3 separate regions of the Homo sapiens genome follow, and regions 1 and 2 are each linked to region 3. Evidence: fine-mapped expression QTL. A gene starts in region 3. Each other region holds a variant in brackets. All regions are shown on one strand. Distances are from middle to middle. Region 1 overlaps LTBP2 (latent transforming growth factor beta binding protein 2). Region 2 holds the start of MIR4709 (microRNA 4709). Region 3 holds the start of SYNDIG1L (synapse differentiation inducing 1 like).

The links. PIP is the estimated chance that this variant, and not a neighbour inherited with it, causes the effect.
Region 1: its variant is fine-mapped to the expression of SYNDIG1L in tibial artery (GTEx, PIP above 0.99). The same link has a PIP of 0.9 or more in subcutaneous fat, sun-exposed skin and transverse colon.
Region 2: its variant is fine-mapped to the expression of SYNDIG1L in tibial artery (GTEx, PIP above 0.99). The same link has a PIP of 0.9 or more in aorta, esophagus muscle, lung and unexposed skin.

What each region holds. Positions count from the first base shown.
Region 1 is chr14:74,518,504-74,526,503 of GRCh38, forward strand. It overlaps LTBP2 (latent transforming growth factor beta binding protein 2), which reads right to left. Exons shown (of 36, transcript NM_000428.3): 14 at 7,572-7,611; 15 at 6,621-6,722; 16 at 4,287-4,415; 17 at 3,408-3,536. LOC124903347 (a long non-coding RNA gene) reads left to right here. Exons shown (of 3, transcript XR_007064266.1): 3 at 101-815. Among named protein-coding and RNA genes, the nearest start is that of ISCA2, 29 kb to the left of the region's middle. RefSeq lists enhancers at 3,945-4,823, 5,285-6,224. The variant C/G (reference allele first, on the strand shown) is at 4,220.
Region 2 is chr14:74,475,026-74,483,293 of GRCh38, forward strand. It overlaps NPC2 (NPC intracellular cholesterol transporter 2), which reads right to left. Exons shown (of 5, transcript NM_006432.5): 4 at 5,677-5,754; 5 at 4,915-5,263. The coding sequence ends at 5,249. It overlaps MIR4709 (microRNA 4709), which reads right to left and starts at 5,179; the gene lies at 5,108-5,179. It also overlaps a transcript of SYNDIG1L not described here and the pseudogene RAP1AP. The variant G/C (reference allele first, on the strand shown) is at 4,954.
Region 3 is chr14:74,422,892-74,431,159 of GRCh38, forward strand. SYNDIG1L (synapse differentiation inducing 1 like) reads right to left here and starts at 3,319. Exons shown (of 4, transcript NM_001105579.2): 1 at 3,021-3,319.

The DNA of each region.
Region 1 (8,000 bases), 95 kb after region 3:
CTTATCTCCAACCCAGCGTCCCCTGAGGGCCCAGCTTTCAGTGTACCTGTTCATTTACTTGCTTCTCCCTGACTAATGGGAACATGCCTTATTATCTCAGCATCTCCAGTGCCCAGCACAGAACCCCAATAAGTGCTTACTGAAGGAATTGAATAATAACCATTTGTTTAAGGACAGTGTCTTCACTTGAGCAATACTTCATAAAACTCCAGTGCACAGCAAAGTCTCTGCCAGAAGGTGGGAAATGCACACTCCTAGGCCCACAGCCAGAGATTCTGATCCTGCTGTACTGGTGGGCCCAGGAACCCACGCTGTTATAGCTCTTCAGGCAATTCTGGAATAACTGGTGTTCACTGTGAGAAGCTCTAACCCCAATGGAAGAGAGAAGGGAACTCATAGACAGAGCCGTATGTGGGAACTGGATGAAGAACTCATTATCCCCTGAGGTCAGGACGACTGTCTGATAGATGGTGCTGGAAAACTCCCTCACTCCATGGAGAAAAATGGAGACGTGAATAGAGAAAGACCAGGTTCTTAACAGCCATATGAAGATGGACTCCAGATGAATCAAAGCATACCATAAAAGGGAAAACTAGAACTCAATTAAGGTATAGGAGAATATCTTTATGACTTCAGGATATGGAAGGATTTCTTAAACAAAGCCCCCAAAACACACAAAAATAAGGCAAAATGGTGAATTTCAGTAAATCAAAATTAAGGATTTCTGTTCCAAGAAATGTAGATAAGCTTAAAGGATAGAGGACAAAATGGGAGCATTGCAATTTCTAAACCCGGCCAAGAATCTAGAATATATAACGGACTCCTAAAGAGCCCCAGGAAAAAGCAGCAACCACCATTGGAAAACTGAGCAAAAATGGGAGCCAGCAGTTTACAGATGAGGAAACCCACAGGCTAATGTATGAAGAGATGCTTACATTTATTGGTAAACATTTACTTAGATATTTAATATGTAAATAATTTATCTTATTGATAATATAAATTATGATTTATATTAATTATATATACATTATTTAAATAATCTATAAATAGATATAAATATCAAATCATTGAGGTAATGAGATATTACTTTATGAGACTGGGAAGCTTCAGAAAGTGGGTGTTATTCTGGACAAGGCCTCTTCCAGTGGTACCCAAGCCCCACTGGGAGAAGTACTTAGAGCCAGCCTTGAACCCCATCCCCGTTCCCCAGCTGCTGGGGCTGGCAGAGACATCTTGGACACCCAGGCTGGCACGGTGGCAGAAACTTGTGTCTGCACCAGTCCTGGTGACACCATTCTCTGCAGCAGCTGCTGCTTATCCCAGGCCAGCTCCCCAGGCTGGGTCTGCAAAGAGCAGTGCCTCTGGCCCACAACACCCACCTAGACGATTGGAGCCCAGAGAAGCCTCCTTCCCTCAGCCTCTCTCCTGGCTCCTCCAGCCTGTTCTGAGCCCTGCCCCTTAAGTCAGCTCCCCGGAAGTCAGCTGACCCAGTCACCACTGTTCTGCTCACAGACTTCTACTGGCTACCCATGCCTGTGAGACAGTGTCCAAGCGCTTCAGCCTGGCACTCAAGACATTTCCCACACTGGCCTCTTCCTCCAGGTAGCCCTGCTCCAGTCATACTGCATTCATGATTATTCCCAGAGCATGCCAGGGAACGTTCACTATTCAGGTCTCTGCAAAGATGCTTCTCTCTACCTGGAATACCCTCTGCTCCCTCAATTCCTATTCACGCTCCATTCCTATTCATGCTCCAACACCCTGTGTGTAAGGGAGTGTGTCTTTGGAAGCAAACCATGCTTTGGAGCTAGAGTGATTTGATTCTGTTTCTAGCTCTGTCACCACTAGGTTTGAGGCCCCTGGGTATTTCAATTCACCTCTGAGCCTCAGTTTGCTAAACTATTAAATGGGGCTAAGGATTTCCATAACATGGAGTTGGGATGATGAGCTTCATATAACAAAATGCTTGGGACATTGCCAGCATATATTAAGTGCTCATTAAATGGTAGCTATTCTTGGTCAGGTGTGGTGGCTCACACCTGTAATCCCAGCACTTTGGGAGGCCGAGGCGGGTGGATCACAAGATCAGGAGTTCGAGACCAGCCTGGCCAATATGGTAAAACCCTGTCTCTACTAAAAATACAAAAATTAGCCGAGCGTGGTGGCAGGCGCCTGTAGTCCCAGCTACTCAGGAGGCTGAGGCAGGAGAATGGCGTGAACCCAGGAGGCAGAGGTTACAGTGAGCCAAGATTGTGCCACTGCACTCCAGCCTGGGTGACAGAGCGAGACTCCATCATAAATGAATGAATGAATGAATGAATGAATGAATGGTAGCTATTTTTATTCTGCTCCATCTCGAGTACCCGAATAATCTCATACAGAACAACTTGCTCCTCATCTGGATCCTACAGTGTCACCATTCACACCTCACTCATCTCAGCATCCTCAGAGCTTGGCACAGTGCCTGGCACATAGGTGGTGCCAACGCATGAGAGCATAATGAACACTACCCGTGATTCTCCCGCTCCTCCGTTAAGTTAGGAGGTCTGCCCCTTCTACTTCCCTTCCCTCCATAATCAAGTGATTGGACCTGGATGGCTTTGGTTTCTGTAAACTGGACCCTTGGGGGATTGGAACCCGAGGGGATCCTGGCAGCAGGAGGGTACACAGCTTCCCTGGCCTCCCTGGGGGTCTGGCCAGAACCAGCAATGTGAGCCCCAAGCACAGGCAGGGTCCCTCTTGAGGTGAAGGATTTACAACTGGATTATGAATCTTAAGGTGTTGCTTAGAAAGTGCTGCATTATATTATTTGTGAACTTAATCATAAAAATGTATGTGGAAAAAAATGTATGTGGGGTGTTTTGCATCATTAAAGGGTTTGCGTTGGGAGCGTATTTATCAAGGGTCCCCTGGCAGTGGGCCACATCACATCTTCCCAGGGAAGTGCAAAGCCCTACAAGTGCCTCCAAGCTGCTGAGGAGCCGTGCTCCTCGTTCAAAGGCACACCTACTCCCAGGTCTGCCAGTAGTCCCAGCCTGGCATCCTTATGGGTCTCCCTCCTTCCCTGACATGAAACCAGCTCCTTGTCACTCGGAGTTTGGGGGCCTGCTGCATAATCCTCATCTCCAGCCATGTCTCCTGACCCTGTGACACTCTTGGTTCCACCCACAATTCCTTAGGGCCTTTGCAGAGATTGCTGGTTTTTGGATTTCTACCCCTCCTTGCCACTGGCATAGAATCAGCCTCCTCCCAGATCCAGGCTGGAGTTCTGGTCTCTCCTCCTTCACTCCTTCAGCTGCCCACTCCCCATTCTGCGGCACGGTGTTTGGGGGTGTGAACCCCTGGTTCCTCTTCCACCCCCTCAAGACTGTGGGGCCTGGCCAAGGGCAAGGGCGGGCTTGGCTTACCTTGACACTCCTGTGTCGCCCCTGAGGTGGCCAGAGTGTAGCCAGGGTAGCAGAAGCAGGAGTAGGACCCCACGCGGTTGATGCAGCGCCCTTTTCCCTTGCAGGGGTCCCTCAGACACTCGTTGTCATCTGACCAGAAGAAGGCAGGGAGGGAGGTCAGGGGGGCCAGCGGTGCCGTTCTTTGGGCACCTACCAGCAACCTGCCCACACTAGGGGCTGGGCAGGGGATGGTGCTGTGTGGCAAGGAAGGGGTGAGGGAGTGGAGGAGGCTGAAAATCTCTAAGGCTGGAAGCCATAAAGTCAGCCCAGTGGGCCCACTCAGGCACCAGAAGCCTGGCGTGACTGCCAGCCCCTCCTATCTGCCCCTCGACTCCTTCCCCCAGTAGCCTCATGATTCCTTTCTCCTTTGAAACCACAATGGATATTTCTCCCTTATTTGAAAATATTGGGGGGAGGAGGAATGAGGTCCACACTTGATGATTTATCTTAGCCTCAGACCTCCCCCTACGGATGACCCTGGTGGAGACATTTGCAACTGGGGCAGTCCTGGGTGTGCTCTCCAGGCAGCAAAATGGCCAGTTTGAGGGGTGGGCTGATCTCAGAGAAGAGGGCTGCCAGGCACAGGCCAGGATGCATGCAATGGGCTGGCTTCTGTGCTCCTGGAGTCCTGGAGACTCATCGGATGGGGCTCACCGAGACTGGTCTTCCCCTGAAGGTTAAAGTTAGCTTAGTCCACAGGGACTGTGCTCCTCCTAAACTCATCAACCACCCAGCACTGCTTGGACCTTCTGCTTCTTCCTGGACTCTCAACT[C/G]GGCCTCTTAGCCCCTGCTCCCATCTACCCCAGCCGCCAAGTAAGCCCAGGGCACCCAAGTGAATACCTGTGCAGTAGGCCTGGCTGGGGTGCAGCTGGTAGCCAGGGCTGCAGACACATCTGTATCCATCGGGGAGGTTCACGCAGGTTCCAGGGCCACAGACGTTGGTGGCTCCAGCAGCGCATCTGTCAATGCCTGTGGGAGACAGAGCAAAACAGAGGTTATGGCAGGGTGGGTGCTGGACAAAGGCAGTGGAGCGGGGTGGGGACAGTCAGTGGCCAGGGTCTAGGGGCCTCAGAAGGCCAACCTTAGCCAGGCCCTCCCTCCCATACCCATGCACAGCTTGGCCTTGCATAAGACCCTAGGGGACCTCTGCCCAGCACCCCGAGCCCTACCCAGGATGGAGGTCATAGTAGGGCATCCCCCTCACCGAGATCTAATGGATAACCCATATTTCCAGCAAATTTCCAGCAAAACCCCTCCATCCTAGCCCCACCCCGAAAATGGGCCTGACTCCTACCCAGTGCCCAGCGCCATCCCTCCCTGCAACTCCTGCCCAGTTTTCCCTGGACAGACAGACAGACCTGGTGAGTAAGGTGCTTGGGGAAAACTGCCAGGGGAAAATGGGAGGGGTGGACTGGGGTCAGCTGAGCAGAGCCTTGAAAGCCACATTGAGACTGGCCTGTAACAAGGATTTTGTGAAAGGTGGGGGTGGGTCAGAGCAGTCCTAGAAAGGCCACTCAGGCAACGAGATGATGGATGAACTGGTAAGGGAGGTATAGTGGGTCCTTAAAACCTGTTGAAATAATTTAAATGAGGGTCTGCCTTGGGTGGTGGTGATGGGGTGAGAAGTGGGGAGACAGGTACAGAATTGAGAAATAGTTTGGAGGCAGACTCACTGGGACTCGGGGTTGAGGCTGTGTAGACAGCAGAGACTTTAGCTTTCTGAACGGTATCCCTAATACTAGAAAGGTACCTGGCACTTAGAACATGCCAAATGGATAAATGAATGAATGATGCTTCTGCATTTGTGTCCACCCTGAAGTCTTTGCCTGAAGCCCACATGCTCAGGGGTCCCTGCCCCGCCCCCATAGCTTGGGAGAAGCCGAAGACCCAAGGGAATGGGTTGGGGAATGGTCTGTACGTGGGTATACAGTGGGGCTTAACAGTCTGCCAGATTGTACTGAATTGAATGTGCACCCAAGGCTACCCTCTCCCCGGGCCTGGCTCTAAGTTTGTGTCAGCCTTGGGGGTTGTGGGGGCCCTCAGCTGGGTCCTAAATGTCTGCCCAGAGGGGTGAGGTTACAGAATGGCAGAGGAGAAGGGGGATAGGGCAAAAGGCTGAGGCTGGGGTTGCGGTGGGGACACTCATCCACATGCCAAGAGCTGCTGCTGAGCTTGGCCTGCCCCCTGCCCCCTGCCCCCTGCTTCCCATCCCTTCCTCCAGGTCCATTTTCCTTGTCAGAAATTCAGCACTCCTCTGCACACTCTGCCTGCTGAGCAGAGGCCAGAAGGGGATGCTCCCTGGAGCAGCGCTTTGAGCCCAGAGGAGAGAGGTCCCAGGAGAGGTCAGTGGGGTGTGCCTGGGAAGGCTGGACCCCTACTCCCCACTCTCTGGACTGTTCCACCAGGCGCAGGGGCTTTCCCTTTGCTGAAGGAAATCCAGAACCCCCTGACCACCCTCACCCCCAACACAAGGTGACTGGGTCTCTGGACCCAGTCGTAAGGTTAAGAGAGCAGGAGCCCCAGGAGCGGGCACACACGTGTACAGGGAGCAGCGGCAACAACACCCGCCTTGCTTCTCCTGCACCAAGTCCCCAGACAATGAGCCTTTAAGGAGGGCACATTCCAGAGCAAGGTGGATTTGCCAGGATCGCCCCCACACCCGCCCCTCGCCCCCATCACTGTAGCTGACCAGAGGGAGAGGAATGCAGGCTTGGTTAAACAACCTTGAGAAATAGAACCATGTTCCTTCCCGAAAATCAGCCCTCCCCGTGGGCAGGCAGCTGCTCGCTGCCAGGCACTCTGCTGACTCAGGGGAGTGGCCTGGAAGAGCCAGGATCCCAGTGGCCCTCACTCCCCATGCTCCCCTTCCTTGAGAGGGACCCCCAGATTCTCCTGGAAGACCCCTGGCTTCCTTCTCCCATGGTGTCCCTTCTCTTCCCCCTTCTGGGCTTGGGCAGTGCTCCAGGCAGGGCTCTTGTTTTCACAAGAGGGACCCTGTGTTCTTTGTAAGATGAGGCCAGGGGTGCACAGCCCAGCTGGGAGCCTGCTGGGGACTTTACCTAGTTGGAAAGGTGAGGGGGCATTCCATTCATGCCCCTGCCCTGGAGTTGGCTCTGGACAGACACAGCTCACAGGGCAGGGTGCAGGGAGCCCCAAAGGTCTGGCTGCAGCTACCTGGGGTGCTCAGGGTCACCAGCACATCAGTGGAGGGGGTCACTTGTTCTTCCTGTATCTCTGCAATCCCCTGTTCAGGCATTGGTGGGGTTGTGGCATTCCCTGTGGAGGAGAGAGGGGAAGAGGTGGGGTTGTGGCCCCTTGGCTGGCCATGGCCCTTCCCTCTTCCCTGGTGCTCAGACTCCCAAGAACGAAGGGTGAAGCCTGGGGTGGGTCACTCCCATGCCTTCCAGTCTCCTGAAAGTTGATCTGGCCCCACTTAGAGAATCTGAGAGCTCTAACAGGCGTTGGAGCACATCCAGTCTAATCCTCCATGTCAGGGCCAGGAGACTGAGGCTTGCAGAAATGGTCACTTGTCCAAGGCCAGTCAGCTTGTCGGAGGCACAGCTGACACCTGGGTTTCCTAATTCCCACTTCAACATTCTTTCACTTCTGCTTACAAAGCATTTCACAGCTTACAGAGCTCTGCCACAAATACCAACATCTTATTTGCTTTGAGAGTCTGCAAGACAGGCATCAGTGTCTTCTACCGTTTTACAAGAAGCATGAGCTCAGCCTTCCAATGTCTGAACCCAACACCAGTGACAGGCAAGTAGTGGTTTCAGGACAAGACCTCTTGGGGGAAAGAGTCTAGCGACCCAGCCAAACACCTGTTTCAGCTAGTGCTGTCTCTTTGTTCTGATTTATGTGCTAAGTGGTGCCATGAAATTTGCAAAGAGTTCTGTGGCTAGAAAACTATCTGTGAAGCGTCATGGGGTCTCTCGCTGACTTCACAGCACCTTAGGTGTATAGAGAGCTCCCAGAAACAGCACTCACAGGCCACGTCCTTCTCACCCTCCTCTGATGTGTGTGTGAGCGTGAACCAGCTCACACATAGTAACTCCACTCCTGATTAAGGGCTCTTTCCCTCCCTTCTCTTTTGCCTAGGAGCCGCCAGGAAGAGGGACTCACCTGTGACCCAGGCAGGTGCATGAGTGACACTGGTCGTGACCTGCACAGAAACAGGAGAAGGTCACTTTTGGCTCCTCTGCCGTACCTGTGATGTGCCACCTTCCACCACACTGACCCCCACCTCCGGGCTTCCTACCAGGAGCTCATTCATGTTTTCATTCATTCCAGGTATTGATGAGTTCTTACTCTATGCTGGGCATTCTGCCAGGCACTTTACACACACTCACTTCATTAACCTTCTCAACTATCTTATGATGGGAGGTTGAAATGATTAAATGAGCTGATATACATACTATGCCAGCTCAGTGTTGGGTCCATGGTAGAAAATCAGCAATTTGGTGTCAGCTATAACCCTAGCATCTCAACACAGTAACAGAAGCTCTGGAGGTTCACTAGAGTGCCTGGAGCCACAGGGCCAGAGTGGGGAAG
Region 2 (8,268 bases), 52 kb after region 3:
TGGTTAAGTGTCTTAAAAAGAGAGGGTTAGAATCTGGCTTAATGAAGGCAAACCAGAGTGTGGCATCAGAGAGGCCATCAGTCTTGAAAGGCACCTGGAATTAAATTTGGAAGACAAATGCATGGCAAATGCCTATGATTCTAGGCCACTGAGCAGTTTCCATGGCTGCAACCTTCCTTTTTTATCTAGGATGATAATAATAATACTAACGACCTTTCTCAGCTACTTATTATGCGTCAGGTACTGCACTGAGCACTTTGCATCCCCCATCTCATGTCATCATTAGAACCACCTGAGGTGGGTATATTCTTATCATCCTGTTTTACAGCTGAGGAAATTAAGGCCCTAAGAGGTTAAGGAACTCATCAAAAGTCAAGCAGCTGGAAAAAGTTGGAGGTGAGATATAAACCCAGCTTGTATTTAACATTTTAAATGTTACAGAAATCTGTAAACAACTACTGCTTCCAAAAGTGAAAACCTCCCCACAGATTCTGGGGAAGTGCTCAACTGTCCTGTGGAGCAGTCCAAGTTCTAGTGGCATCTCTCTCTCTCTCTTTCTCTGGTGCCAGGCTCTTAGACTCTGAAGCTCCTGGGAGGGTCTGAGACTAACAATTCCAGGCAGGAAAAAGGCAAGATTAGGAGAAAAAAAAATCAGCATCACAAATCTCAGAATTCTGCAGAACCAAGTGAAAGTCTCCTGGGCCCAACATATCTGAAATGGTCTCTAAAGCAAATGTCTTGGCCTTAGTCTCCATCCTAAGCCTCTCTGGAGTTCAGAGATTTTCCCCGCCCTCACAATATGAGTAACTAGAAAACGATTCATCTGTGTCCATTTGCCAGTGGTTCTTCAACTTCCTTTCAGCGTCTCAATGCATCATAAGCTGTTAGTCCTGACAGAGGCTTTAGTGATTAGTCCAATCCCTTCAATTTGTACATTACACATTAACAGTGGTTAATGGAAGAGCTTCTGGGATGTTTTCTCTTTGTTTTAGTAAAAAAATCATCTTACCACTAAACACTAATGTGAGAGTTACTTTGATTGCAAAACAGAAAAGAATCTTACAAGCATTGTGTGTGTACACTGAGAATCTCCATCAAACCTCATCTTTCCTATGTTGATCCATTTGCAGTATCCCCCTTTGTGGCAGAGGCATATGGATGGTTGAGGGTGTAGTGGGCAGAGCAATGCATTTCTCCAGCGCTGAGAACAGTCTGCTGCTGCTGGCCTGCTCTCTGCTTTTTGATCTGGCACACCCAGCAGCTCTGCCATGTTCAAGGCCAGCAGCCATCCATTTGTCTGCCAGGCTCCTTCTTGGCCTTACCCACTGGCAGTCAGAGCTAAGCTGATCTTTCTGCCTGCTGGCTGCTTATCTGGGACATATGATTTGTGGAGGACGGCCTGCTAGAAGGGAGCCGTCCTTCTCCAAGCCCCTGCAGGTGAGGGGAGCCACACTGACATGCCACGTCTGCTCCAGAATCTCAGGCTCTTAGTCTCCATTTGCAACTGCAAACACCTGTGCTCTGTGGCTAGCATTGGGCAGTGAGCAGAGAACAGGCATGGGAACATCTGCAGAAAGTAGAAGAGGTCACTGTTCTTCTGCCCCAGTCGAGAGGAGCTGGCCGGATCCACTCACCCACATTGCCCACCCTCTTCCAGGACCCTTGAGCCACCTATGCAGGCCATCTCCTGGTCTCCACCCTCCCCTCCACCCCTTTTTAGGAACCAAACCCCTGGTTTGGAGAGCCTGGTAGGTTCCCATAGCAATGGGCCTTTTAGCTGTTTCCATGGCAACCAACACCCAGACCATTTAGTTGCTAGTCAACTGACAGCTGTAAGTGAATCGGATTCAGTTTAGAATCTAGGGATAGGCTGAGGAATTCTCTTCAGAGAAAAAGACACAACCACCCAAAATGACTCAAATCCTTCAAAGACTTTCAGGCAACATCTGTGGAGATCCAGAGCCACTTTCTACTTTGGGTCACTCAACCCTGTCTCCCCCCAGCCCCATTCCCAACACACACACACACACACACACACACACACACACACACACACACACACACAACCCTGTCTCCCCCCAGCCCCATTCCCAACACACACACACACACACACACACACACACCCTCGCCTGAGTGTTCCAGGCCTTTAAATAAGGCATACCCCAACCTCTATTTCCTGTTCTGTCTCTTCCTTGGGAAAAACACTTGTTTAACGTGACTTTCACCTTGGCGACTTTCTTACACGACTCCTTTTTCTGTGCTAATGCTTTTCTTATATACTGTAACCCTGTCCTTGTACCAACCCATTTAACCATTGCTTTTTGGATTATCTGAAGTGAATGGCTGATCCCAGATCATTTTCTCTTAGTTGACCTCACCTATTTCAAGCCACTCTTCCTATGTCTGGAGGGTGTTCTCAGAGAACAAGCTGTTTTTATCAACCTTTCCAAAGCATAATCAAGATCACCCTGTTTCTTTTCTGAAAGACTTTGTGTTAAAAAAAAAAAAGATCACTCTGTTCCTTTTAAAAAAAGTCAACTAAGATTTAAAAACCAAATATGCAGGATTTAAAATTACTCCATGCTTGTTGCTTTTTATTAGTATGAAGATTTGACTGAATACTAGTCTTCATATTTAACCTTTTCCCAAACTGGAGATATGAGGTGTTGGGTTCCCTTTATTCTATAAGCAGGGGTGCCCCTCATTATTATTTCAACAATTAGAATCTGGGATTTATCTGTCCTGGAATTCATGTAAGAGCTGAGCCTCCAAAACCTGCTCCGTGGACTAGAAAAGCATGAGACGGTCATTGGAAAGAGGATGACCTTTTTGATATACCTAAGATTCAGTGCTTCTCAATGTTTTAATGACTCACGGGGGCGTCTGTGAACTGTCTGTAGAAGACGACCTTTCAAACTAATCCCCCCACGGGAGCCCTACCTAGCTCACGGCTGCAGGCTTCATGTAGCCCCGCGATGGCTGGCAAACAGTCACAAGCTGTTGTGTTCCCCTTTTGCTCTGATGGAAGGGTATAAACTAGCCGAAATACTTTTTAATTTCGATTTCTGAAATATCTACTTATACTCTTTGTCTTTAGTGCTTCCCCACCCTTTTCATTATCACTCCTTACAGGAGCTTTTATGGACCTTTTAATCCTAATCGACCACCCCACCAAATTTTAATACCGCAGATATAATATGTATCTGTTTATGTATTATCTGTCTGTTCCTGCTTTACACATAAAAAGATTAAGAATTTTTTTGTCCCTAAGAACAAATTTTCACAAAGAATGCAAGTTATAAACAATGAAAGATATACAGTATTAAAACATTGTTTCAAATTTGAAGAATAAGTGGAGGAAAGAAAAATATATTTTAGAACTTAGATATGTAAATTATTTCCAAAATAGTTTAACACTCAAACTAGTCAGCTGTATCAAAATCAATTCTCCCTGAAGTAGGCACTGTTCCTAGCTAGAGGCAAGTACTCATTTTGCATGGTATTGTGAGTCCTGTCTTCTTTTAACACAAGGGCAGAGGAGTATGCAGGGTGGGTAGCTGTTAACTTCAAAGGAGCTAAATGGCATGAGAAATCTTCTGGGAATAGGGAGACAGTGGACACATGAGAATTGAGCTTTTCCAGGCCTTTCAGAAAGTTCTTGTGCACAGAGGATAGCCTCATCCTTCTGAGGAGACATCATCAAATCTCAGATTGAACCTTCTAATTTTCCTGCTATTTGTAGACAAAGAAGAATGTCTGTCTCCCAGAGTGACAGCTAACATTTAGAGAGTATATACTATAGCCAGGGTCATTCTAAGTGTTTTACATGCCTCATCTCATTTAGTCTTCACAGCCCTATTATTATTAGTCCTATTTAACAGATAAGGAGACTGACACACAGAGAGATGAAGTGATTTCAAGATCACACTGGTAGTCCTGTTAATTGTTGGTGCCAGGATTCAACCATAGGCAGTCCGAAGCCAGAGACCCGCACAACAGTTAACAGCCTCAGGAATTCACACAATTCTGATACATCTAGAGTCTGGTATGGGAGACAAGGTGGACTGTCACTCTAGACTCAATGTGGCAGGATACACAAAAGATCTTAGGTAAAAAGTACACTGGTTGACTGGCTCCTAGCATTAACTAGGAAAGCTTGGCTGTTGATAACTGTATTCCTGATCCATCACTGTCCCCTGGTGGTTTTCCTGGGAAACTCACAGACCAAAGAAATCCAAGGGTCTAGTGAAATTAGTGGGATGAAAAGAACTGGATCAAATCAATCACTTGCTCACAAGCACTTTGTATGAATGTTCCTTCCTTTTGCCCTAACAATGGATGACCTAAGGTCCATGTTATTCAACTCAATTGTGAATGGGGTTGTAATCCCTGTACCACCTAAGAGCTGACTGCTAGTATACTGACTCAAAATAGGTGGCAAAATATATGCCCATGATTATACTTGTACTTTAAGATAGGAAACTCCAAGATTTAATTAATTTAGCCATTACTTGCTACAACTTCACATTTCATTTTTAAGCTTCTAGGCTTTCTTCACAGCAGTGTTCCCAAAAGATCACCATGCCTCATCCTAACCTGTAATCCCTAACCCCTACCTGCCCTCCCCACCAAATTCAGTTCCTTCAACCTTTCAGGCGTTATTATTCAACTAGGTGATTTTTACTTTCACTGCTTCTTTCGAGCATGCTTGGTGGTATAAGATTGTGTCAAATAAAGCAAAACAAGGCCATTTTATATAAAATAGATATGGTCTTACTGGACAAAAAGGAGGAAAAAGAGTTTCTGAAAAAGTCATGTCTTCAGTGCACTCTGGGACCACGGAACTGGGGGCCTGCCTTCCATGGTTCTAGCAGAATGTACCCTGAAAGGAGCAGGAGAAGACCACAGCCCACATGCAGAAGACAAGACAAACGAGTTTTTATTTATTCAAGA[G/C]TAAATTTCCAGGTGTAGAAAGAGGCCACAAGTTAATGTTGTTAAAAAAAAAATTAAACATCTGCTAACCAAGTGCTGCATTTAATGAAACCACCTAAGACAGAAAAAGAGACATGAGACAACCACTGAGAACCAGCCACCCGGAGCTCAGTTTCTGCTACAGAGCACCTCCTCTTCAACGAATCACTGGATACCATTGGAGAGCAAGTCACTGTTGTTGAAGCAGCAGAGCTGGAGGTGCTGTCAAGAGTCTCAGCAGACTCATTGGCCAGATGCACCGAACTCAATGAGGCACTTAGAGATGAGAAACCTGTGGATGTAATGTCCCAGCTCAGTGGAAGTGGTTTGGAACCTTTCCTCCACTGTCAGGGCAATAACCCTAGGGCAAGTTATCAGACATTCCTAAGCAACCTCCTTCAGGTCCTGTCTGGCTGGACCTTCCTTACTCCGACAGAAAAAAACCAATGAAGACAGTTAAATCAATCTCTACAGTCTCACTCTCTCTTCTTTCCTTCAACCTTTTTTTTTTTTAACAAAGGATATTACAAAGGCAACAGTTCTGAGCTCTCAGGAAATAGGGTCTCAGATGCTTTTAGAGGTTGAGAGGCATAAAACAGCAGTCTTGAAATTCCTTTTATCTTATGGCACTGATTTAGTTTCAGTCTGATTTCTCCTCCACTTTCTTCCCTCCACCCATGCCCTCTCACCCCCAGATAGACTTACGATCTGTACTGGGATTTCCCAGCAGAAGAGACTTTGGTTTTTGTCATCCTGAAGTTGCCACTCCACCACCAGTTTTATCTGGAGAAAGAGAAAAATAATTGAGAAAAATGAAAATAGGACCTGACTTCTATCCATAATTGGTTTAACTATGAATCCTAGATGTACAGTAGCAAACTTCCTAACTCCTCATACTTTTTTTCTTAAATCATGAGGGCTGCTTAGCATGTGGGCACAGCTTACAGCCTTAAGAGAGTGAACAAAGTTATACTTGTGATTTGATGCTAGCAGCACCACATACTAACTTGGTTAATTTATCAAATGTAATTTCTAAAGCATTCTCTTCTCTCTTAGATCAATGGCATATAAATGAAGTGATACGGTTTGGTTATTTGTCCCTTTGAAATTTCATGTTGACATGTGACCTCCAATGTTGGAGGTGGGCCTGGTGGGAAGTATTGGATCATGGAGGAAGATCCCTCATGAACGGCTTAGCACCGTCCCCTTGGTGATGAGTGAGTTCTCACTGACTTCACATGAGATCTGGCTGTTTAAAAGAGTCTGGGGCCTCCCCCTTCTCTTTCTTGCTTTAGTGCTGGCCATGTGACACGCTGGCTCCCCTTTGCCTTCTGTCCTAACAGTAAGCTTCCTGAAGCCTCACCAGAAGCAGGTGGTGGCACTATGCTTCAGGTACAGCTTGCTGAACCGTGAGCTGATCAAACCTCTTTTCAAGTTACCCAGTCTTAGGTATTCCTTTACAACAAGGCAAATGGACTAACACATGAAGGCTTACATGAATAATTTCACATTTAAGCAATTTCTCATGTATTTGGCAATCTGATCCAGCTTTTTCCCAATGTAACCATGAAGAGCAGAGAGTAAAAAAAATTTAGATTCTTAGGTATAAGGAAACGTTCTTGTTAGCTAGAAATGGAAATGTCAAAGCACAAAAGATGGCCTAGAGAAGTCTGTAGCTGTATGAATAATTTCAAGGATGACAACCTTTTGTAGCAATATACTTTCAGTTAACGCCCTTAAACTGCTTTCTAATAATGTACTTCATCAGAAATCCCTGCCTTGACTTGTTACACTCATATCACGTGAGTGGTCCCTTCCAATTCTTGATAACTCACTGACACTCTGCAGGTCCTTTCTTATGTGGACATTAGCTTACTTGTCACTAGTTACTACCTCTCTTTTGTACTCTAATGTTTCTTCACAATGGAACATGTGAGTGGCACTGATATTCAGGTTCTTGAAACTTGCCTTGTGAGTTTTTCCAGACTAGTATACATTAACTACTGCTTCATTTAGTGCTTAAGCAGTTTGAGCTATTTTTCAAATTAAATGTAACTCATTTAACAGACAATAACTACCATACATTAAGTACCTACTACGTATCAGGCTCTGACTAGTCACTGCATACGTAACTGAGGTTCAGACATGCCCATGGTTATGTGGATATTCATCTACTAATCTGTCCCTGACCTCTAAGGTCTCCAACAGCCCTTAAGCACAGACATCCTATATTTGAGTCTCTTTAGAATGTTCTTTAATTACTTACCTTTCCTAGAAAATAAATGGCCAGATATTGCTCCTGAGTTCTACTTGATTTCAAGAAATGCGGCTCTTTTTCTTCATGGAAAAAGGCCATCCCTCTATTTCCTCCATTCTTATCAAGATACATATCTTTAATACAGGTCCACTGCAGCAGGATCTACCTTATGAGTGCTTGGTAGAAAAAGAGGTAGGTGCAGCAGGGATGGGTCAGAGGTGAAGGTGGGGATTGGAGGGCAGAAAGAAGGCTGGAAAAAGCTACCTCTCTGCCATGGAGCTAACAAACTACTGCTCTCTTGTTTTGTTAAGAGATTAATGGAGAAACCAGGATTTTCTGATGACAATGTTAAGACAACTTGGATCTTTAATTATTTGGTACCTGGCTAAAATCTTTTAACATTGCACAGGCTTTGGAGTTATAAGACCCAGCTCAAAACCTGGGCTCCACTGCTTCTTAGTGGAGTGGACTCTGTTCATATTGCATAACTTCAGAGGCTCAAATTTCTTCAGCTGTAAAATAGAGATAATATCACCTCTACATAGGATGGTCATGAGATCCAAGTGAAATATTGTATATAAAAATGGCATCAGCCGTTGCTGTGCAGAGCCGAAGCAGGAGCCGCAGCTGGGAGGAGGGAGGAGGGAGGAGGGAGGAGGGAGGAGGAGGTGGAGGAGGTGCCAGACTGGGGGAATCATCAGTATTTAAACAGACCACATCACGGGTGAGCTAGTGGTCCTTGGTTCAGGAGGTGTTGGGCAGTCTGCTCTGATGGTTCAGTTTGTTCAGGGAATTTTTGTTGAAAAATATGACCCAACGATAGAAGATTCCTACAGAAAGCAAGTTGAAGTCAACTGCCAACAGTGTATGCTTAAAATCCTAGATACTGCAGGCACAGGGCAATTTACAGCAATGAGGGATTTGTATATGAAGAATGGCCAAGGTTTTGCACTAGTATATTCAGTCCACGTTTGACTTACAGGACCTGAGGGAACAGATTTTACTGGTTAAGGACACAGAAGATGTTCCAATGATTTTGG
Region 3 (8,268 bases):
TTTCGCCATGTTGGCCAGGCTGGTCTCGAACTCCTGACCTCAAGTGATCCACCCGCCTCAGCCTCCTAAAGTGCTGGGATTACAGACGTGAGCCACTGCACCTGGCCACACAATTTCTTAATGACCATGTTGCATTTATTCTTCCTCTTTCTCAGCAGCCCCCCCGCCCCCAAGATCACCCAATCATGTGCCATATGCCAGGGTTGACTCCCTTCTTCCCTTTGAGGCCTTGTAGAAGGGCCCAGAATAAAAGCCTCAGCAAGGAGGGAACAAGAGGGGAACACAGGAAGCAGCCAATGGGTAGTTTTCCCCGGTCAGGAGAGGAGCCAGATGTCATCTGCCTGGGTGACCAGAGATGCCCTGCACCCTGACAGCTCTGGGAGTGGGGTGTCCACCCAAACAGCTGCAGAAGGAAGGCTAGTGTATTGTCCTCACCCCAGTAGCAGGCCAGCTCCTCTGCAGACCAGCCTTGCAGAAAAGAAAACACCTCACTAGCTTGCTGTTGCTGCTGCTGCTGCCGTCACTTTGTTATGAGGGTTAGTGACTGTCCATTAACTCCAGAGAGCTGATTCTTGCCAGTGCTGCACCAACAGCTGGGAGCCAGAAAGCGATGACGTGAGGAGGGGGGACTGGTCCCCCACCCTGGCTGGGCACTCACAGAATAATTCGGCGAGGTCACTGGCATGGTTTACTCAGCTCTACCGAAATGCCAATTAGCTAAGGTTTTTCTGAGCATCGGCTGGACCTGCCACAGTTGAGGGAAATTATTATCAGAGAAACTCATTTTGATTGATATATATATACACACACACACACACACACACGTAACACAAATATAAATTCTCTGTAGGGATGGATATTTCCTGCTTGTCCCCTCCTCTGGTCTTCCTAGGAGGGAGATCATAGCCAGGCAGGGTCCCTGGTAGGAGATGGCCAATGGTGGGGTCCCTGGCCCTTTGTTACTCACAAGAGATGGTGGTGGTGGTGGTGGTGGTGGTGGCAGGGATAATGGGGTGGTGGTTCCTGGCCTCTGGGCTTGGAGGCAGGAGCCCCTCTCAGTTCAGTCATTCTGAGTCACACTTATGGCTTTCCCAGAGAAATAAGAGAGGGGGTTCTTAAGAAAACATCAGAAATATAAATGGCTTTTTCTGGTTCCTATTGCTCACTTTCACTCCATTCATAAAATCCAGTTCATTACTAAAAGGTCATTAACTTTGTTGTCAAACCAGGTTGATAAAGCCGGCATCCTGTATTCAAGCAGAATTGAGGGGTTTATGGGTTTAGGACAGCCTCAGAAAGCCCTACAGAATATCAGGGCTTGAAATCTTAACTCATCTAGCCCAACTCTCTTCTTTTACAGATGAGAAAAATGAACCCCCAGAGGGGAATGGACCTGCCTGAGACAGCGGCGGATCTGTGACCAGAACACAGGGCTTCTGACTCCCAGTTAAATGCTTTTATTCTGATACACTTTAACATTTCATTCCCTCATTTTACACCCGATTACCGAGTCCTTACTATCTTCCAGGTGCTGTTGGGGAGGGGGTCATGAAGGGGGACAAAGAGATGAAAACAACACAATTCCTGCCTTCAGGGAGCTCTTTCCCTAGATCTGTGGTTCTTAGGGAGAAAAAATAAAAACCGGTGAGTCAGACTCTTACCTTATATTATCTCCTATAGGTGATGATGGAAGAGGAGAAGAAGGGAGGGCACACTTTTTTCTCCTTAAGGTTTATAAGTTTGGCTTCACTGATTCTGGGACCCCACGGTGGCCAAGGACAAAGGGAGACATGGCCATGCTGGGAGAAGAGGGGGTAGGGGTGACAATAATCAGGTCACTGACAGCAGGCCTGGCTAGGGGTTGGGAACAGTGACAGCAGCGCACACTGGTATGGAGATGTACAGGTGGCAAGCCTCCAATCAGGTGCATTGTTTTTCATTGGGCCCCAAGGCAGTTCCCTGAGGTGAGCAGAGCGGTGACCTTATCCCCACTCCAGGGGTGAGGAGGATGAGGTTGAAAGAGCTTAGGGAACTAGCTAAAGCCAGTAAATGCCAGCACCCAGCCAGGAACTCCTACTCTAGTGCTCTTTCTACCCCTGGGGGTAGGGAAGTTGTGTTGGGTTGGAGGGTGGGGATAAAGCAGTAGAAAGAAGTGGTCAGCCACAAGGGTAGGCCAATTCTTCCTCCACGCAGTTTTATTTTGATCGCTACATTCTGCCAGTCATAGAGAACTCTGCTCTGAAGAACTAGAAGCACTTTGCAGGCCTGAATGAGCTCATTCAGCGCACTCTTGCCAGAAAGAGAGAGAACTCCTAATGGAGGCTCTGTCTAGGGTCACCAGCACATAATAGAAAACAGGACCCAGGTTCCCTGACTCTTTGCCCTCATGCGCCAAGAGATGTGATGCAAATCCTGCCTGCTTCTGTGAGCGTCAAGAGTGTCATAGGAAAAAAAATTGAGGTATCTTCCAGGACCTCCTTCCTTCCCTGAAGAAATGGGTTAATCCATCCTAAGGGGCCTTGGCCCAAGAGCCAATCCCTTGGCCCAAGAGCCATTTCCAGGGCAGAGAAATCTCAGAGCAGGGGGTACCACAGCCACCTCAGTCACCTGGGTGAACAGGTTTGGGTGCGAGAAGAGGGGAGCTTAGTGAAGCCTGCTCAGATTTTGCTAGTGTCGCAAAACCTTGGTGGGGACTGGGGTACCAGGGAGTCTGAGGCTCTAATCAGTATTTCTTGCCGTCAGTAGGCAGGATGTCTAGGAGCTGCCTGAGGTCAGGGTCAAGGCCTGATGTTGTGAGGTTATGGTGTCTTGACCCCAGTTCATCAGCCCCCTCCCAGCACCCCCAGCCTGCAGGATGAGGGGTAGGGAGGGACGAAGTGCAAGCCTTGGCGGAGCGCAAGGTGCGGCCAAGCAGGGAGTCAGAGCCCCTAGCCCCGAGAGGGCTCCCGTGCCCTCCCCAGCTCACTCCCCGCTCCGTGCCTAGCTCTGCGCTCCCGCGGCGCCCCCAGACCGCCCCTTACCTGTCCCGCCGCGGACGGTCCCGCCTCCTCCGCGGGGCTCGGGGGCTCGGCATGGGCCGGTGAGCGACGGCGCCCCCGCCTCGCGGTCGCGGTGGAACTCCCAGGAGGGCTCCCCTGCTCTCGTCCCCGCGTCCCTGAGCAGCCGCCGCTTCAGCACCGCGGACAGCTCCCGCCCGCAGCCCGCCGCCGCCGCCCGCCCCGCCCCGCGCGGTCCCGGGAGCCCCGCATCCTGGCCGGGCCCCGCCGCCGCCGCCGCCGCGCAGCCCTCGGCCCGGCCCGAGGCGGCTCCGCGCCGACTTGGGAGAGCAGCGAGGAGGGTCCCCCTCCTTCCCGCCTCCCGCCGCCGCCGCCTCCCTCTCGCTTCCGTGCTCCGTGCTCCCTTCCACGCTCCGGAATCAGCCCACCAGGCACTCCGGACCCGGCTCCGGGGCGGGGCGGGGCGGGAAGTCGGGGGAGCCCGGAGGAGGCGGCGAAGCGAGGGGCGCGCAGCTGGAACCCGCGTACCCGCTTCCTGGAGCCGAGCCCTCTTTCCCAGCCCTTCTCTCCCCTCCTCCCGCGCACCCCAGAGCGATGGGAGGCCCTTGGGCTTCTTGAAGCATTTTGGAGCTCCTAGGCTCCAAAGCCAGCCCTGAGTTTTTAACATTGATCTGCCCTAAAAAGAAAAACAAACAGAAAGCATTTATTGAGCACCTACTATATACCAGATACCAAGCCCGATAATGTGTTTAATCAACATAAGCTCATTTAATTTTCTTAACAACTCTATTAGGCAATATAGTGCCCCTCTTCCCCTCTTCCCCTCCCCCTGCCCCCCTCCCCCTGTCCCCCTTCCCCCTCCAATTTTGCAGACCAGGACGCTGGGCTCACAAGGATGAAATCCTGTGATTTGGAGATTCAGTGCTGTGCTGGGAAGGGCACAGGTTTTAAAGCTCATGGACCTAAGTTTTGGTCCTAGGGTCCCACTTGCTGTATAACCTCGAGCAAGTTACCTAACCTCTTAAAGCCTCAGGTTCCTCATGGACAAAGTGAGGGGTCATATGAGGACAAAATGAGATGACATACGTGACACATTGGCACTCAATAGGCACTCAGTGAGTGAGCGTCCCCCTGAGTTTTCCCAGCAAGAGCCCTGAGATCCGAATGCAGGCCTTTTGGCTGCTTTGTCTCCACCCTGTGCTGCTCTTTATCCACCTCCACCTGCGTTTCCTTTTTTTTTTTTTTTTTTGCATGGGGATGCCCTATCTTGAGTGTTACCAGTGGATGAACCTATTCTTCGAGCGCCTTCACAAGGTCTTGAGTCTCACCAAAGTCCCAGGAGGTCAGGAGGAGAGAGTATTCTCATTTTCTGAAGGTAAGTGTGGGTTTGCAAAGTAAACCACAGAGCAGGCTGCAGCTGGGGCTGGAAGACACAAGGAACCAGGGTCTGGCAGTGGGATTCCACTAGCATCCACTAGTCTCCTAGCATCCAGCTGAGGATGCTATAGCACATAGCATGGTGGACTCCAGGACTCCTTCACTCCCACAGGATGTGGGCATCTGGCACAGTTCGGTGTAGCTCCTAGAGTGCACAGTAGGAGCCAGGAGCAAGTCCACATCATGGGGCTTGGGTCTCCTTCCCTTCAAGGCAGGACAGAGAACTCCCTTATCCTGGGGTCTGTCTCAGGGCTGGTATTGGTGTTTAACTTGTTGGGTGCTAAATATATTATTGCTCTTCCTGTCTCTGCCCCATTAGTGGATAATGCAGTGAGAAGCCCCCTGAGGCCAGCAAGGGTCTTGGACCACTCATCTCAGGCCCATACTTCATCTTCACAGACACCCTCCTCCTCAAAACACAGACATACAGACACACACACAACACAGACACACATAGACACACACAGACACACACACAAGACATTGTCTCTGATGTCAGGCCACCCTCCTGTACCTTTGCTTTCTCTGGCCTTCCTCTCACAGGGGCTCATGGCCACCTACTTGGCCTTGGCCTCCCTCTGCTGCTCCCCTCCCCACCCTGGCTGTGCTCCATGCCTGGGCTGCATACTGAAATACTAATTGAAAGGATAATAAAAAAGCCAGTGAAGCAAAAGCCGCATATAAATTCTAAATACTAATGTTGATAATTACATGCTGCTGCCTGGAGGGAAAACTCAAAGAGAGGCTGTTGGTGTTGTATCAAGGGCCCTGGCCTGGTGCCAGGAGACCCAGGTTCTAGTCTCGCCTTTGTCATTAATTGGCTGTGCGACCTTAGGCAGTCGCCTAATCTTCCTGGGCCTTTGCTTTCTTATAATTCAATAGCTCTGAAGAAACTATAAGTGCAATCAGCAATGTATGATGCTTGTGACAGAGAACAGTGGGTAATGCAGTGATAAGAATTTCTTCCCGGGAAACTAACCTTTACCTCTCACAAGGTACAGGGGTGGCTTAGGGACTGAAGAATCTACAACCATGCAAAGTTTCCATTCTTTTTCCATTCTCTCTTTATCCCTCCCTTCCTTTTTCCATCAAGCATTTCCTGCCATGTAATGAAAATCAACCCCTCTGTTAGACACCAAGAATGGAAAGTATAAACCATTGTCCAGGCCTTTGAAGGAGCTGCAATGAAGGGGATGCGGTCCATAGACATGTTGACCAGCAATTCCAACACCTTGTGATAAATGCTGTCATGGAGTAAGTGAAGAGTGCCAGAGAAGAAAACAACTCACCCTGCCTGGGGAAGTCCCAGGAGGCTTCCTGGAGAAGGTCTGAGTTTTATTAAAGGATGAGACAGTCACCAGGCAGGCCATGGGAGGAGGGGATTGTTGGTAGGAAGGCCGGAGTGAACAGATGAGCCTGGAGGACTGATGAGGAAGCTCCACCAGAGCCCAGGAAAGAGGTGGTGAGAACTTGAGCAAGGCAGAGTCAACAGGACGGGAGCAGGGAACGGATTTAAGACACTTCTGGGTGAAAACAGAGAGGAGAGATTGGTTGTGGGGAAGGGAGCAAGTCCAGAAGGGTAACACTGGGGGCTCCTGCTGCTGGGAAGCTAATGCTATTTACCAGAGGGCATCAGGAGGGGAGCAAACTGCTTACCTTGGGTAATGCTGCTTAGCACCATAGCCCCTCAGTTTCTAGGCACTCTCTCTTTTTTTAAAATTTTATTTTCCCTTTGGTTCCTAGAAAATTTTCTTCAGCTAAAAAGGCTCCTCCCATCTTGTCTTGATTATCTGAATGGAAAAGGGAAAGGCCCAGACTTGGGCCAGGAGAGCTGACTGGGGCAGAGCAGCCCTGGAAGCTCACCTGGAGGTAGCAAGCATCCTCGCTGGGACTAGGGTGAGGACCACAGGTAAGGGACAGAGTAGGCACTGGCTGAAAACCTGGGAGGGGATGCCCTCGTGTCCTCTTCTCCTCCCACATCTCTGACATTCCTTAAGTGAAATCCAACCCTAGAGGGTTCTGTTTTAGTTGGAGTCAGCTCCGGCTGCTAATCTCTTCCCACCTGGGGACTTCCCTTCATAAGCTTTTTCATGCATAAACTCTTGGTTCTTTTTACAAGGGGTTGATTGCCTCACAGTGTTCTCTAGGGAATGTAAATCAGCACCAAGCATAGAGAGGCCTGCCCCACTACTACTTCAATAGGCCACACACTGGAAGAGATGCTTCCCTTAAGAGGACAGGTGAGCCCCACCCCTGGCCTAGTGAGCCCTCTACCTCGGAGTTGAGCTCACGGCCAAGGCCATATGGCTGTGACCCACAAATCCCTGGCTAAAGGAGGGATTGTCTGGCAGAGGACAGGAGAGGTGGGCCTTTGGACTGCCCATCAGCCAAATCCTGCACTCATGGATATGGCTCCAGGATGACACAGTTCCAAGGAAGGGTGCATATGTGGCTGTAAGCAAATAGTGGGAACAAATTCTTGACCCTTAATGCTAGAGAGAACCCTGGAAACCCTTACTGCTTCTGAGTCAGGCCCTTTGGTTTGAGGCAGACCCCCAGCAATGAAGTCTAGAGTTGTCTGTCTTTTAAACTTCTTATTTGGGGGGCTTTGGAAGTACATTACCACAGCTGCTCACTTCTTTTTTCCATAGGAGACTGCAAAACGGAAGAAGCCATTTCTTTAGAAACACACTGATTCATGCCCAGGAAAGAAGATGAGGAGAGTTCTTAGCACCGGTCCCGCCCGATTCCCTGCTTTCCTGCCAGGCACACACTCACTCAAGCCTGGGGAGCAGAGTGGGTGAGCTACTGCCAATTTGAGAGGTAGAACCAGAGCATAAAGTGAAGGAATCCAGCCACCGCAGACTGCACAGCTCTGAACTCCACCACTAACTCTGGCATCCGCAGGCTGCTCGGGGCATGTGAGCATTTGCACCCTGGCAGAGTAACCTGCACTCTTGGCACTTTCCCACTTTGCTGGAGCAAGGATGAGTGAGCGTATATGTGTGAGAGGTTGGGGGTGCCAGGGTGGGGCTTATCAACAGTGGCAAGCAGATGGCAGGGTTCTTTCACCTGATATGGTAACAAAATGAAAATGAGCGGAAGAATACGCATTCTTTTTTTTTTTTTGAGACAGAGTCTCACTCTGTCACCCAGGCTAGAGTGCAATGGCATGATCTCGGCTCACTGCAACCTCCGCCTCCCAGGTTCAAGCGATTCTCCTGCCTCTGCCTCTCAAGTAGCTGGGATTACAGGTGTGTGCTACCATACCTAGCTAATTTTTGTATTTTTAGTAGAGATGGGGTTCACCATGTTGGCCAGGCTGGCCTTGAACTCCTGACCTCAATTGATCCACCCGCCTTGGCCTCCCAAAGTGTTGGGATTGCAGGCGTAAGCCAACATGCCCGGCCTAGCATTCTTTATATTTGCTTGCACACTACAATTTTTTTTTTTGAGACAGAGTCTTACTCTGTCACCCAGGCTGGAGTGCAGTGGTGCAATTGCTGCTCAACACACAGCAATTTTTGAAGCATCTGCTTTGCCATTATCTCATTTCATTCTTATAAACATGTATAATTCCCAGTTTACAGATGAGGAAAACTAGAAGCTAAGTAACCAGAGAAGCTAAGTAACTTCCAACTTGGAAAAAATAGTCAGAGATCAATACCAAGCCAAAAGAAAAAAAATGAAACTGATGCATAATCCTGCCTTCTTCCTGCCCTTGAAGCCAGAGCCAGTGTGATGGGGCTGGGGGAGTTGCAGAAAGAGGCCTTCTTTGCCTTCACCCTGAACTGGGACAATGCAGAGTGGGCCCCAAGCTCCTGCAAATCCCTGA